Linked DNA regions of Homo sapiens. The protein of the gene in region 1 purifies or fractionates together with the protein of each later gene. This does not show direct contact. Each region holds a gene or a part of one and is shown in the gene's direction. Other genes may lie near its edges.

The links. Proteins that work in one complex are often made in the same cells at the same time.
Region 2: the proteins of DNM3 (region 1) and DNMBP purify together in Homo sapiens (affinity purification with mass spectrometry; 4 studies listed by BioGRID and IntAct, with this or other methods). This does not show direct contact.

The regions. Positions count from the first base shown.
Region 1 is NC_000001.11:172,403,714-172,411,731, forward strand, and holds part of DNM3 (dynamin-3), read left to right. Parts: exon of another isoform or gene 1-4,058; coding exon 4,059-4,128; 3' UTR 4,129-8,018. UniProt on the Homo sapiens protein: Microtubule-associated force-producing protein involved in producing microtubule bundles and able to bind and hydrolyze GTP. Most probably involved in vesicular trafficking processes, in particular endocytosis.
Region 2 is NC_000010.11:99,999,150-100,007,167, reverse strand, and holds part of DNMBP (dynamin-binding protein), read left to right. Parts: exon of another isoform or gene 1-931; intron 932-4,144; exon of another isoform or gene 4,145-4,226; intron 4,227-8,018. UniProt on the Homo sapiens protein: Plays a critical role as a guanine nucleotide exchange factor (GEF) for CDC42 in several intracellular processes associated with the actin and microtubule cytoskeleton.

The DNA.
Region 1 (8,018 bases):
TAACCATAAACCGCCCACATACAACACAGTGTTTCAATAAACACTAAGTGATACAAGATGCTCCATTTCAATATAATGCCTTACTTAACGAAGCTCATTACTAAACAAAGCAACTGAGGAAAATTTGGTACAAAACAATAACTTTGCTTTCCCCAAAACAAACTGTCTTGTGAGGTGAATGCCTTTGGAAACTCTTTGAATGGTTAGGAACTGGACCAATGAAATGAACTTTAACAGTAAACTTTAAATGTTTTCTGGTGTTGAAGTTAGCAAACATCTTTAGCATTGCATATTAAGAAAATTCACCCTAAATTGCTTTCTAGTACAGTTGTATATACAGATTTTTGTTGTTACTGTTTTAGAAAAAATAAATAAAATGTTTATTTCTTCTGCAAGGTTTAGTGAGGAGCTCTTTAGGATTTTTAATGACTAAGTACATATTTGGGTTCCTTTAACTGCAACTAGGCATATTTCCAAGATATCATAGTTACTTTGAGAGAACATGAACATTTTATCTTTTATTATTTTAATTATTAATTCACCATCTAGCTATGCAGTGCCTATTAAATGCATGTCCCTAGGGACATCCTTAAAGAGCTCATAATGAATAAGTTATCCTGATTGACTGATTTATTTGGAAAAAAATACAATACTATGAACCACAGGCCATGCTAAGTTATGGGATATGGTAGTGAATAAGACTAACAATAGACCTGGCACATAGCAGAACCATATGTTCTCCTCATCTCCTGTCTTGACTTCTTTCTGCAATTGCCTGCTACTATTGTGCTCTTGTCCCAGCCACATGGTCCAAGGATTAAAGCAGATATTAATGAGAATTTACTGTGCCATAAGAGTACTTAAGTCTTTCTATTCTCTATCCACACCATTGAATTTTTCCCTTCAATCGCCATCATTTAAGTTCCAATTTCACTCATTATAGACCTACATTCCTACTTCCAAGTTTTATATGCAGCAGTTACAATCATGTTTGCCATCACTTTGACCACATTATTGTATTTTCAGACTTCCCAGAGTGTATTCTCAGACTCCGAATTACAAAATTTTGCCCCACTTTTCCACTTAAAATGAAGTACTATAATAAAGCTACTTTCATATTTGTTTTATTCCACTCATCTTCCATTCTGAATAGATGCTGAGCTCTTTAAAGTCATGTAGCATGAAGCAGTCCACATATTAGATGCTCAATAAATAATCTATGCAATATATAACTGGAAGTCTTGACATAGATCATCTAGTCTGATTGTACAATTTGGCAACTGGAGCTAGAATCCACATTTTCTAACTTCTGATCCAGGACTCTTTCTATGTAAACATAGTATCTCAAATATAAGCTTCTGATAAATGCCTTAAAAGTGTAGCATCCTTGGCCTCGCTAGACCTACTCACCTTGATCTAGCCTAAACTCTAGCCTGGCTAAATATCTTGTTTAGGCACTTTTCAGTCATTTCTTCATTTGTCCATTATTCAACAAATACTTAACCACTGCTTTCTAATCACATTGTACCAAATGCTGAATACACATAATAAATGCAAAATATGTGGTTTCTTTTCTCAAGGAATTTTGAATCTATTTGGGGGACACTGGTAATAATCTAGTAAATAAATACATAATCACAAGTAGGGTTACGTGCTACGAGAGACACAAACATGAAGTCATAGGGGAAGGCAGAGGAAGTCAGGAAAACTATGGGATGGTCCAGAAGGACTGAGGAATAACAGTTAAGCCAAGAACAAAAGGATCAAGAGAAGTCAGTTTCATTCCTTTCTCTCTTGGCTACAAGCCTTGATCCAAGCTATCACATATTCATGAAACGATTTCCAATCCATCATGCCATGCTGTATCCTACTTCTCACTGAATTTGTAGTCTAAAATCAACTTTTTATTTAATGAAATCACCTAATTAATTCCATTATCAAAACTTCTGGTAGAATTTCCCTCCTTAAAGCTCAAATTCTGGCCAGTTCTCTCCTCCCACCAGCCAACTGGTTAATTGCTAAGAATACATTTCCATAGGTTACATGATTATTTGACAAACTCCCTGAGGGCAGGGGGCTTATTATTTGGTATTTATTCCAAATATCTACTAAAGAACTGAGCAGTTAGATACTTTAGAGTCACCAAGGATCTCAATCCTACATGTCACTTTAGCTACTTTTTTTTTTTTGCCATGGCCATGATTTACTCACAAATATCCTTGTATTTATAAGACCAATGAATATCACAAGCATTCATTAGTTATTTCTTGATTCTAGGAGGAACTTTCATTCATTCAGTTATCAAACATTCAGTGACTGAATGACAAGCAGTGAGCTAGATACCACAGTTACATGAAGATGATTAAGAGACAGCTCATTTCTCATCAGTGAAGATAACATATAAGCCTAATTAGAGTTCAGTGTGATGACTAATAATAGAGATTTGTTGAGATGCTATACAAACAACTGTATCAGGAGAGGGGAAGGCAGGTCAGGGAAGGCTTCACTGAAGTAAGTCTTAAATGATTAGTTAGTAGTCTCAGAAGATGACCAAAATGACATTGAGAATGTAATTGCATGTAACACCATGCTAAACACTGTATGAAACAAGTTAAGTGGGTGTGACCTGCGCCCTTCAGAAACTTCCTATCAAAGAAGAAAATTATGCAGATTCAAGATTCAGGACATAAGTTAAACATATATGGCCATTTTAAATGAAAATAAGGCTGGGTACCATGGCTCACACCTGTAATTCCAGTGCTTTGTACCTCCCCAAAGAAAGATTTCCTTTGAAGCCTCTTACACATTTTTCAAGTGCATGAGGTAAAAGGAATTCTACTAATATCTATGAGTTTGTGCCTAAATAGTTAATATTTTCACCATTAATCAACAATATCTCTCCTGCTTTGATTTTTCCTTGATCGTGTAATTTAATTTTATAGTTCCATGATTTTTCAACAACTATTTTTTTCAAAACTATTTTTCAAAACTATTTTTCATAATAGTTTTCTTAAATTTTTCTAACTTCACTTCTTCATACCTGAGAAAGGACATTCAATTTGATCAATATAGAGTTTCTAATACAGAAGAAAAATTTATGACTATAATTCCAGAAGGAGTCTTTCTGAAAAAATCAGTTGCAGAGTTTTATCAAAAAGAAACATTTCAATTTGTAGACTTTGTCAAATTTGGGGGGGTAAAAAAATGACTACCCAAGATACCATATATGAAGTCAAGTACACAAATACACTAAAAAAACTTATTAATATATTTAGGAAATAAATGTAGAAGCTTGAGGAATAAATAAGTAATAAATAATATTACTTGGTAATGTTGAGACTCTCAAATACAGTAATATTTCATTATCTAAAGTACGTTTGCTTAGTAAACTCAGCTACCAGAAACATCATTACCAACTAGAAAGTGAGTAATACTACTAATACCAATACTAAAGTCTTTAAGACCCAAAATAGGAACTAGAGCTCCTGCAATTTAAACAGGCACTCAACACTGAGCCTATTTACACTTGCTACAGAGAACTCTAAAGACTTGCTTTTCTGATTTTTAGTGCTCTGTAAATTACAAGCATAATATAGAACAAATTGGAGAAAGTCAAAAAGGCAATGAGAAGTGATAATAATATCCTGAAAGAAAAAGGAAAATTATATGTGAGAAATAAAAATTCAAAAGCCATCATTGTCTGAAACAGTATACCTTATTAGTTCCTGAGTTCATTCTATGTAATTATTATATTCTATTGGCTAAGATATGTGCAGTACGTTTCAGATGGCTTTCAAATAGTTTCATATTTCTTATTAGTATTGGAAGGAATGACTTCAGTTTTGAGAAAGATTTGCATATGAAAAAAGACGTAATTTTCATTAAAACTACTAGATAAATGAAAGGTGACAATGTTAAAATCATTACAGATCATAACCACTTCTGCTGGCCTGTATGTGCATGAGCATGTGTGTAATGGCTCTTTCTCAGTGTCCTTGGAACAATGTTCTGCTAGATATTCTACTTGTTTCTTTACCTTTCTCTTTTTCTCTTTCTAGCCGGAGACCACCCCCATCACCAACTCGTCCCACTATAATCCGCCCACTAGAATCCTCCCTGTTAGACTAAACGAAGTGTCTGGCATGGCAATTAATCACTAATGAATTATGCGAAAGCAACATATTTGATAACCGTTGCAGTAAATCATGAGTAGTCGCATGTGTGGACATCAGTAGGCAAGTAACCAGTTTTACTAATGCATTCATCGCTCATCTTCATTGCTCATGGTATGTCAAACCTTTGGGGTTTGACTCAGAAACTGCTAACCTTTTAGAGGCTTTATATGTTGTACTGACCAAGGTAGGTTTGTATAGCAGCCCTATACTTTGGGGATCATTTGCCTACCATGGCATATATTTGAAATTGCTTTGGACAAGTTTTCTAGGCTATCTACCAGGTAGCTCATTAAACGTAATTCTTCAGATATGAGATAGTGGGCTTAGACCTAAGCCATACATATTTCTTTTCCCACATTCTGTTTAGGATGACAGTAATTCTGTTGTCTACCATTAATGCTACTACCTACTCCATAATTGCCTATTTAGCTCCTCTTTTCTTCCTTTTTATTTCATAAGACTGCTAGGAAGTGATTTTTTAAAATTAGGACTCCTTAAGAATAAACTTTTCCAGAAGCACGAGGTAGTTTGCAAAGGAAAAGTCTGCACTGTTTGCTCTAAAGAGCTTCTCCTCATTCCAATGTGTTTTGCTTCATGCTAGAAGCATATGCAACAGTGAATAAAAGCTTCTTTTTTTGTTAATCAGTCAATAAATTTGGCTAATTAGTTTCAGAGTTCAAGGAAGAAGCAAAATATCACATCTCTAGAAGTGTTGGGAAAAATATAATTTCTTTCTTTACTTATATTCACCTCATGGTAGGTTATATTGAAGGCTGACATGGAGAATGTTTACTTTTCTATTTGGCATAGCTAACTACACTTTGATACTAACTCCAGTTTTACTATTATTATTTTGGTTGGAAAAAAAATTCACTCTTTACGTGCTAATTTGTAATCTTGTTTTGTAAGAATTTATCCTACCCTTGAAACAGGCTCAGTGTAACTGTATATCCATTCTAGGCTTTCTTAATAAATCTTGAGGCTATGGGATAATCACATTTAAAGAATGGTTCCTGAAATGAAGTCAGTAGAAATGGCATGGGATAAGAGCAGAGCTCACACTTTTACAGTTGCAGTATTTCAAAGTCCCTATCCAGGTCACTCCAGAAAAGGGTATTGAAACGTTGAAATCTAAAGCAAATTTGCAATTTCTTAAGATTTCTAAAATTTACCAGAACAGTTTAGCCTGGGGGTTAATAGTTAAGTCTTGAGGCTAAGTTTTGGACTACCAAGGACCAGATGATTCACATGTAGGAAACAGCCAGAAGCCAACTGGAATTTTGTGTGCTAACTGTTCCCAGACAGCAGAGCAAGTATTCACTGAGTAGGGGTGTCCCATGACACTATTTCATATTCTACAGAAGTAAATCAGGTTTCACCAACTGAAATGTCTCCCTTTGAAAGTAGCAAACATGATTTGTATGTTAACTTAACTTTAATTTCCTGTGTAGTTTACACCCAGAGCAGATACTCATAAAGTATAAAGTAAAAACTTTTAACCATTATTAAACAGAGAACTTGCCATGTTGAGTGCCATTGTATTGAACTTATTCTAAAGGCTTATGCTAACCCATTTATAATTGGTAAAAATCAGAAAATACAAGATTTACATAAAGGTCATTTCAACTTTTAAGGTTACCAGTGATTGTATAAAAACATCACAATCCTAAATCCTCTCGTATCTCACCCCAAACCCCAAACTGGGGGAAAAAAAGTTAACTCTTTGTGAATGGAACCAATGTGCAAGATACATACTGCATTTTTAAAATAGTGTCTCAGCTAAATGGAAAACTGTTAAGCAAACATCCATAGTAAAACAAATAATCTTCAGTGAGATCTTTTTATAAAACTTCTTGTTTTTAGGATTCCCTTTGCTTCTTCCTTTGAATTCTCTAAAATAGGCAGCTAACGGATTATATACTTCAGGGTTTGGCTTTGTGCTAAATGTGGTTTTGTGTTTTGCTGTATTTCAAAATTTTCCTTCTGTTAAAGGAAAATATTGTGAATAACCACTGGTGTGTTCTTAGATCAGCACAAACCATGTCAAAAAAAATTGGAGATTTTTTTCCAATTTTCCTTCCACTGATCTTAGGCAGTAATAAACAATGGCATTTGTCATCTTTGGCACTTGCTTTTAGATTATAGTCCCACAGTTGCACTGCCCCAATTGTCTACCTTTGTGGGTACATTTTTGTTCTTTACTCCTAAGTTATTTCTCATAGAACCCAGCCTACTCTAGAATTTCAGCAGTGACATTGGAGAATATTTTTAATTTGCTGCAGTACTATGTCATATTATTAGTATGAATCTCATTTCCCAAAGGGTTTGTATTCTGCTAAAAGGAGATGCCAATGTTGAATGAAGTCTGAAACTCTAGTATGTGCATAGTTTGACGTGCAGCATGCACACCAGGCCTTAAGATGGGAATGTAGCTTAATGATTTTCTGTTTCCCATACCATTTCTAATCTTTTGTGTAATTTTCTCTTAACTGATTGCTCTGATATTGTAAACACAATAGATGTAGCTCTATCATGTCTAGCATAATTTAAAAAATCAGTGTTTTTAGGATTTGGGAAAATAAACTGTAAATGTTTATTTGATAGGTAAATATAGTTTTATTGTCACATGCTAAATATTGCATGCATATTGACTAATTGGAATAACCATTTACTCAATTATGGACAGCTTATTGAAATAGTATTGATTTAGAAAAAGTATATTGCATTTCTAAAAAACATCTACCAAGGTTACTCGTCTGAATATTGCTTTTAGCCGTGTTTTATAACATAGACGAGCAGTAGGGTCTGTTTATTAGCAAATTTCCTATTTGTTCCAATACAAACTCACTTTATTCTAAAGTATATTAATGAAACCAGTTCCTGTGATGTAACTGTAAGCCTTCTCGACTTAGACTTAAAAAGTGGTCACATAGATTAATTTTGTGACTTTTTAGTATAGACTGTAGCCATAATTCTCAAATATGAAATGGGACCTAATACCAGTATGTGATAAATGTTGATGTTTTCTGTGTACAAACACATTTTCTATGCATGTGTCTCTGTGTATATGGCATATACCTAGTAAGTATGTTTCTGTAAGTATGTGTATTTTATGTCCATTTGAGTAGGTAGGTAGGTTTTAAAAATACTAGTTAAAATGCCACAAGCATGAGTGTGATTGTATGTGCACTGTGTGTATATATATAAATATATGTATATGTATGGTTGTAAATATCTATGTATACATGTACTTAGTATGTGTGGTATCAGGATATTTTTTAAACTGTGATAATACAACAGATAGCTTTGAATGATCTGCCATAACATGTGGTAACAATAGTTCATTTCTCATAACATATATGAGGTATACAAAATTTTCTAACTCCAGATTGTAGTCATTTTGAGAGGTACAAAGCTCATAATTACCATGACAACATGGTAATGTCCATAGACATTTGTATCTGAATCCACAAGAAGATCTGAATCTAAGAAGGAATTACCTTTGACAATATTTTTCGGTAAGAAGTAAAACCTCTGGAGACCTATCTTTAAGATCTCTAATTGGAATTATAAATTATTTTTGGATTGCTGAGCTGAATCTTAAAAAGCCAAGTTGATATACATAGTCATTTTTCCTCTATGGTAGAAGTAAAAAAAAAAAAAAAGGACATAGCAACATTAAAGTAGTGGATTTTTCTGAGTAAATTTGCTGAAAATATAAGAGAGAAGCTATCTAATACCTTGGAGGTAGGTCATCCACTTTTTCAGGTAAACATTTTTCATTTGGCAAATGGCATAATTATTTGAAAGTGACAGGAATCTCCTCAGAATGAAGAATAAAGC
Region 2 (8,018 bases), on another chromosome or scaffold:
TTTATATAGAGGGGTCAAATAAAGCCTCTACTGAGATAACTTTTTTTTTTTTGGAGACAGAGTCTTGCTCTGTCACCCAGGCTGGAGTGCAGTGGCGTGATCACAGCTCACTGTAGCCTCAACCTCCTGGGCTCAAGTGATCCTCCCATCTCAGCCTCCCGAGTAAGCTGGGACTGCAGGCTTATATCACCACGCTGGGCCAATGTTTGTATTTTTAGTAGACGCGGGGTTTCACTATGTCGCTCAGGCTGGTCTGGAACTCCTGGCCTCAAGCGATCCACCCACCTTGGCCTCCCAAAGTGCTGGGATTACAGGCATGGGCCACCACACCTGGCCTAACTCATGGTGGGAGACTGGAAGGAAATGAGGAAGTGAGCAGGAGGCAGTGGGATGAGCATGTTCCAAACCCTGGTGCAGGAGCATGCTTGGCATGTTAGGGGTGGCAAGGTCATGGTGGCCAGTCAGTGTGGATGTGGGTTGGGGGGAGGTGGCAGCAGATGAGAGGGGGTGGGAGTGGGGAGGACACATCAGTGTAGGTCATTGTAAGGATTTTGGCCTTTACACTGAGTGAGGGGGAAGCCGTTGGAGAGCTTTGAACAGTGAAGTTGATGATGACTTATGTTTTAAAAGGATAACTGGCTGCTGGGTTGAGAATAGACAGGAAGAGGACAAGGGCTGAGTCAGGGAGACCTTTTCAAGCTAGAGCTGTGTGACTCACACCATAATTCTTCCCTGAGTCTTCGTTTCCTCATCTGTAAAATAACTGGGCCCTCTCTAGCTCAAGAATTTTAAGTTTTCAAGTAGTGCAGGGTATTATTTCTACAGGGAGGCAAGAGGATTGCGTGGGAAGAGGTTCTGAAAGTAAATCGCTTCAGATGACCTGAAAACTTGACACCAACCTGCCTGTAGCTGAATCATCCCAAATCAAGAGGTAATCAGGTCTTTTTCAGTCAGATTGTCAGGTCATGAGAACAAAAACACTGTTTCGTAAATATTCTCTGCTCATCCCTTTTGTACTTTGCTGATCCCTGAATTTTCCCTTCCTGATTGAAAAAGGATGAAAAGCTGTTACTCATCAACAGAACTGGCAACCAGAGTAGCTTTTGTTGTTTGGAAAATTGGGAACTTTGGGGAAGGAAACAATTCTGTGTTTATCGTAGGTCATAAGAGTTTTTCTTTTATAACACGCAAGGAATCTAAAAGATTGGTTTTGTTGTAGAATTCCCTTGTCCCATTCATCTCATGTCTCACAGGTGTTCATTCTTAATGCATTGCATGTGCTTCCTTTTGTTTATGTAGGAGCTTGCAAAGTGGGAATGTTTGTTTTATGTGTATGTATCTTGATTTATAATGCTGTAATTCATTTTCCTTTATGTAGTTTGGTTTTTTTTTTTTTTTTTTTTGGAGACTTTTGAGACAAGAGTCTCACTCTGTTGCCCAGGCTGGAGTACAGTGGCGAGATCTCGGCTCACTGCAGCCTCCGCCTCCCGGGTTCAAGCCATTTCCTGCCTCAGCCTCTTGAGTAGCTGGAATTACAGTCATGCGCCACCACGCCCAGCTAATTTTTTTGTATTTTAGTAGAGACGGGGTTTCACCATGTTGGCCAGGCTGGTCTCGAACTCCTGACCTCAGGTGATCCGCCTGCCTTGGCCTCCCAAAGTACTGGGATTACAGGTATGAACCACCATGCCAGGTCTCTGAGTAGTGTTTTTAAGATCCATCCATATTGTTATGTGTCTAATTCTCTGCTTTGGAATGCTGCATTTATACCCCATGCTGTTTGCATCCATTGGTTTTGCTTTATCTGCTCTCTGTGTAGTGAGTGGTTACTCAAGTTGTTCCTACCCCCTAACACCATAAATATTGCTGCAGTGAACATCTTCCTACATGTCTCCTTACAAAGCTGTATAATATTTCTGTGGAATTGCTGGATTATAGGCTTGCAGAGACTGAATTTGATTAAATAGTGCCAGATGCCTCTCCACAGTGGCTGCCCCAGTCTCTGTGCCTCTGGAAGTATTAATATTTGAGGACTCCTGTATCCTCATGTCCCACCAGCACTCGCCTCTTTCCAGCTATCCATGGTTTTCAATCTCGTAAGCACAAAGTGATATCTTGTCGTTTTAATTTATATTTCTTTGATGACTAGAGATTTTGAGTATCTCTTATACAGATAGCTTCCTCTGTAAATTGCTTATTCATGTCTTTGGCATTTTCTGTTGGAGTTGATATCTATTTTGTTGCTGTTGACTTGCAGAAATGATTTTATAATATAGGTATTTATTCCCTGTTATGTTTAGACTTTGCAGATGTCTTCTCATTTGGGCATCTTGACATCTGTTGATCAAATCTTCTCATTTAGTTCTCGTTTTGTCTTTGCCATCCTTTGATCAAGAAATATTTTTAATTTTGATGTAATCAAATAGATAAATTCTTTGACTTGCGGTTTATGTTTTTGGAGTTTTGTTTAAGGAACTCTTCCTGAACCCTAGGTCATGTCTGTGACTTTCATCTCTCTAGGGCCCGCATTTTCATGTGTTAGATAGGAATCCAGCCCTATTTTTCTCCATTTAATGACCCAGTTTTTCTAATAACATGTCAACAAAATCCATGCTTTCCTCTATGAAATTATGGTATCTCTTTCTCATTTGTGGTTTCCATGGATACACTTGTCTGGCCCTAAGCATTTATTTTGTTCCATTAGTCTGTCAGTTCTTACTTCATTTTTTTAATTGCTCTAATTTTATTACAGTGACTTTGTAGTATGTCCTAATGACTGGCACAGCAAGCCATTCATCTTAAAGTTTATTTAGCTCTTCCTGGACCAAAATTTATTTTTTCCATATAAAATTTGGAATAAGTTTACCAGGCTACCCAAACATTATATATACATATATATTTATATATATATATTTTTTCTTTTGAGACCTTGTGTCACTCTGTTACCCAGGCTGGAGTGCAGTGGCACCATCACGGCTCACTGCAGCCTCAACCTCCCAGGCTCAAGTGATCCTCCCATTCTAGCCTCCCAAGTAGCTGAGACCACAGGCATGTGCCACCATCCCTGGCTAATTTTTCTTTTTTTTTTTTGTAATTTTTTTAGAGATAGGGACGCCCTTTGTTGTCCAGGCCGGTCTTGAACTCCCGGGCTCCAGCAATCTTCCTGCCTTGGCCTCCCAAAGTGCTTGGATTACAGGCATGAGCCACTGTGCCTGGCCAAAAAATTATATTTTTGAGGAATTTTTATTGGAGTTTATTGAGTTTATAAATTATTTGAGGAGGGTTAACATCTTATTTTATTTATTTATTTATTTTTTATGTGCCATGTTGCTTTTTTATTTTTTATTTTTCTTTTTAAGACAGGGTCTCCCTCTGTTGCCCAGGCTGGAGTACAGTGGTGCGATGATAGCTCACTGCAGCCACCACACCCAGCTAAATATTTTTATAAGTTTTTTGTTGTTGTTGTTGTTGTTTTAATAGAGATGAGGTCTCACTCTGTTGCCCTGGCTGGGCCCTGGCCAGTAACTCCTGGCCTCAAATGGTCTTCCCACCTCAAAGTGTGCTGGGATTACAAGTGTGAGCCACTGAAATAGTAACTCATTCCATCCAAGAGCATATAATGTGTCTTTCCGTTTATTCAGCTCATTTTTCTGACATTTTTATAATTTTGGAAATAATTTAAAGCTAACAGAAGAGTGCTAAGAGTATGTTTTCTTTGTGTGCTTTTTCCCCTGACCCCTTTAATTGTAGACATCATGTCCCTTTAATCTCTAAATACATGCTTCATCAGTTCTTTTTGTTTGTTTGTTTGTTTTTCTTTTGGAATGGAGTCTCGCTCTGTCGCCCAGGCTGGAGTGCAGTGGCTCGATCTCTGCTCACTGTAACCTCCGCCTCCCAGGTTCAAGCAATTCTCCTGCCTCAGCCTCCTGAGTAGCTGGGGCTACCGGTGTGTGCCACCACGCCTGGCTAATTTTTTTGTATTTTTGGTAAAGATGGGGTTTTACCATGATAGCCAGGATGGTCTCAATGTGACCTTGTGATCCACGTGCCTTGGCCTCCCAAAGTGCTGGGATTACAGGCCTGAGCCACCGTGCCCAGCCCTTTCCCATTCTTATACTTCTTATTCATTTTTCTTTCCTTACAGCATTGGCCAGGACTACTAGAACTGTGTCAAAACAGCTGCTACACTAACGGGCATCTTTGTCTTGTTCTCAGTCTTAAAAAGAGTGAGTCTAAAGATTTCCTATTTCATATAATGTTTGTTTTAGGTTTTGTATGTTACCTTTATCAAGTTTTAAGGTATTACCCTCAATCCTAGTTTACTGAGAGTTTTCATCATAAATAGGTATTAAGCCTTACCAAGTACTTTTTCAGGATCTGTCCTTGAGGAAATAAGATGGCATCAGGAAGGCTGTATACCAAAATCCTAACCCTATGCTGACTTTGTTTCAAGCAGAAGATATTTATTAACCCTACATATATAATTTGTGGAAAGCATCTCAAGATTCCAATACAAGTTTATTTCACCATTAGGTCAGCTTTTTCCTCCTGGCATTACGAGTCAGAATTTAAATAGCTGATGTGAAAAATGAGAGAAAGAGCCATACTCAGGATGATAAGTTTTGTTGTCAGCATGATTGTAAATATAAGATATGTAAAATTATAGTTTCCTTACTCTGTGGATCGGTCTTTACTTCAGGCATAAATCTTACTAAATTATATCTCAAGAAATATTGAGGTGGCTCGTCAGTAGAGCCATAGATAGCTGTTTAGCAGCACTAACTGCTAGGGTGTTGGGCAGTGAATTCTCATGGCCAGCTCTTCTCTCTCTTTCTTTTTCTTTCTTTTTAGACTAGCCATTTTTTTTCCTAATTGTGAAATTATACCTCTTTATTACAGAGCATCTGTAAAATATAGAAAAGCGAATCTATAATCCTGCCTTTTAGCACCAACCCCTGCTAAAACGTTGGTTATTTCTCTGTCTCTGTTTTTTATTGGGGTGGGGGAGCATGTTGAGGAGGAGAGGGCACTTAACATTGCACTATATCATTTTCTATCACCCCTCCTTTTTCAGGGCTAGATCATTAACTCATGTTCATTTTGCTTTGATTGGCTCTCTGGGGAAAAATCGATAGAAAACTTACAATTAACTTGTAGCAGTGGGGTGATAGCTTGCTCCTCTCTTGGAACAGTTTATGCCTGAGGGAGCCTCCGTGCACAAACAGCCCAGAGTCATTGTCAGAACTTGGAGCAATCCTAGCCCTAAGCCCAACAGACCAAAAACTAGCTTAAGGGTGTGGAGGGGAGAAGTACTTTTGAGGTCTCTTTGCTTCAGTTCAGTCCTCCCAGGTTGTCACCTTCCTTATCTAGACCACACTTGCTTTAATCTTTCAGAAAATAAATAGAATGGAGAAAATAGTCATTTATTTTCTTTTGACTCTGAAAACCTAGCACAGGCCACGTACGGTGGCTCACACCTGTAATCCCGGCACTTTGGTAGGCCAAGGCGGGCGGATCACTTGAGCTCAGGAGTTCAAGACCAGCCTGGACAACATGGCCAAACCCCATCACTACCAAAAAATACAAAAACTAGCCGGGCATGGTGGCATGTGCCTGTAGTCCTAGCGACTCAGGATGCTGAGGTGGGAGAATTGCTTGAACCTGGGAGGTGGAGGTTGCAGTGAGTTGTGCTTGCACCACTGCACTCCAGCCTGGGCAACAGAGTGAGACCCTGTCTCAAAAAAAAAAAAAAAACAACAACAACAAAACCCCATCACAATTGTTTTGTTTCCCTAATCACTTTTTGCTAGTGTGGAAGTGACAGAATTCATAGGTGAACATCCCTATGGTGAGGAGATTCAATGTCTACCTGCCTTCCTTTCTCACTCTCTATCCTTTTTTTTTTTTTTTTTTTTTTTTTTTTTTTTTTTTTTTAATGAGACGGAGTCTTGCTCTGTCCTCCAGGCTGGAGTGCAGTGGTGCCATCTCGGCTCACTGCAACCTCCACCTCCTGGGTTCAAGCAATTCTCCTGCCTTAGCCTCCCGAGTAGCTGGGATTACAGGCACGCACCACCACACCTGGCTAATTTTTGTATTCTTTAGTAGAGATGGAGTTTCCCCATGTTGGCCAGGCTGGTCTTGAACTCCTCCCTCGTGATCTGCCCGCCTCGGCCTCCCAAAGTGCTGGGATTACAGGCGTGAGCCACCGTGCCCGGCTCTTTTTTCCCCCAGTGTCCTTTGGTGTTGAAACTGAAATTCCCCATTCCTGTACCCTGCTGGGTTTTTTTTTTTTTTTTTTTTTTTTTTTTGCCATAACAGGTGTCACTTTCTAAAACACAATGGTCTGCCTTCCCAATTCCTCAAGGAGAAAATTCTTCAAGGGCAGGAATCTTTGTTTTGTTCCCTGTTCATAACCCAAGCCCACCTCGAACAGTGCCTGGTACCTGATGTGCCCTCAACAGATGAATCTATAAGATGAATCAACCTGTAAAGAAGCCACACTGTGATCCAGAGAAGGGTCATCTAAGGGAGGGGTGAGAGAAGAAAGCTCTCTTAGCTTCCTTTCAATGCATAGGTTCAGCAGGCTAGTAGAATCCCCATTTTTGTCTTTGACATTGCAAATGAAACCATCCACCCAGACACAGAGAAATTAGCTCTCTGCATCTGTTCTAGCCCCTCCTGCGGAGGCTGCATTTTCCCGAAAGTAGCATGTGAATGTTTGTGTTGCTGACAAACACATGGACTGGGAGAGAATAATCAGCACTGACATTCTAGCTGTGGGTCTGGGCCCAGAGTGCATTCTGCATTGTTTTCATGAGGTGATTCTCTTAGGATAAATGAGCCTGCCCCATCAGCAGAAAATGTTGCAATGGATGTGCCGAGTTATGCTTACCTCCCCAGCCTCACACCCCAGGTCCTCCTGCTTTCTAGTTGGTTCTTTCCTCCCCTCCCCTGCAATGTGGAAACTTTTTAGCTTTTCTGTCATTTCCGAACAATAAGTATTCTGAACGGTAAGTATTCTAATCTGGTTCAGAATTGTTACGATGAACAGTTATGCCTTGCATACCTGGTCACTGTTTTCTAAAGCAAGTCTTCAAATTATATTAATAGCACTATATAAAATGCTAAAAAATTAAAAAGCTGCCACAAATACACCATAATGGTGTTCTTGAGGCCAGTGTCACACACCCAGTCTATCCTGTAGAGGCCATTGCTTGGCTCATATTCCTGAAATACCGCTTTTGTTTATTATTCTACTGCCTGACACTTACCAGTGCCTACCACCTCTCCCAGTAAATTTTAAACTCTGCTGCCTGCCTGGCCCTCAAGTCTGGCCCAAATCCACTTATATAAAGTAGTCCCTGCTTTTCCACAGGGTATACATTCCAAGACCTCCAGTAAATACGTGAAACTGTGGATAGCACCAACCCTACATATACTCTGCATTTTCCTATACGTACCTACCTGCGATCCAGTTTAATTTATAAATTAGGTGCAGTAAGAGATTAACAACAATAATAACAAAATAGAATACTTATAACACTATATTGTAATAAAAGCTATGTGAATGTGGGCTCTCTTGCTATCAAAATGTCTTAGTAGTGTACTCACCTATTTTTAGACTGCAGTTGACCATAGGTAACTGAAACTGTGGAAAGTGAAACCGCGGATAAGGTGGGGACTACTGTGTGTAACAACAACAATAATGTAAAAACAGCAGCTCATATTTTAGCTACCATACTACATGCATTGTCATTTAATTGTAAAATGATTTTACGAGGAAGGTGCTGTTAGAATCTTCATTTTATAGATGGAGAAACTGAGGTACAGATCGTAAGAAACTTGCCCTAAAGTTGTACCACTGTTAAGTGAATAGAATTAAATTCAAACTCATGTCTGTTTACCTCCAAAGCCCGTGCTCTCAACCGTCTTGCCATAGTGGTCCCCAGGTAAATGAGTGCCTGAAGACAGTGAGTGACTTGTACAGTCCAGCAGTTACTGAGGTTGTCCTTTTTCAG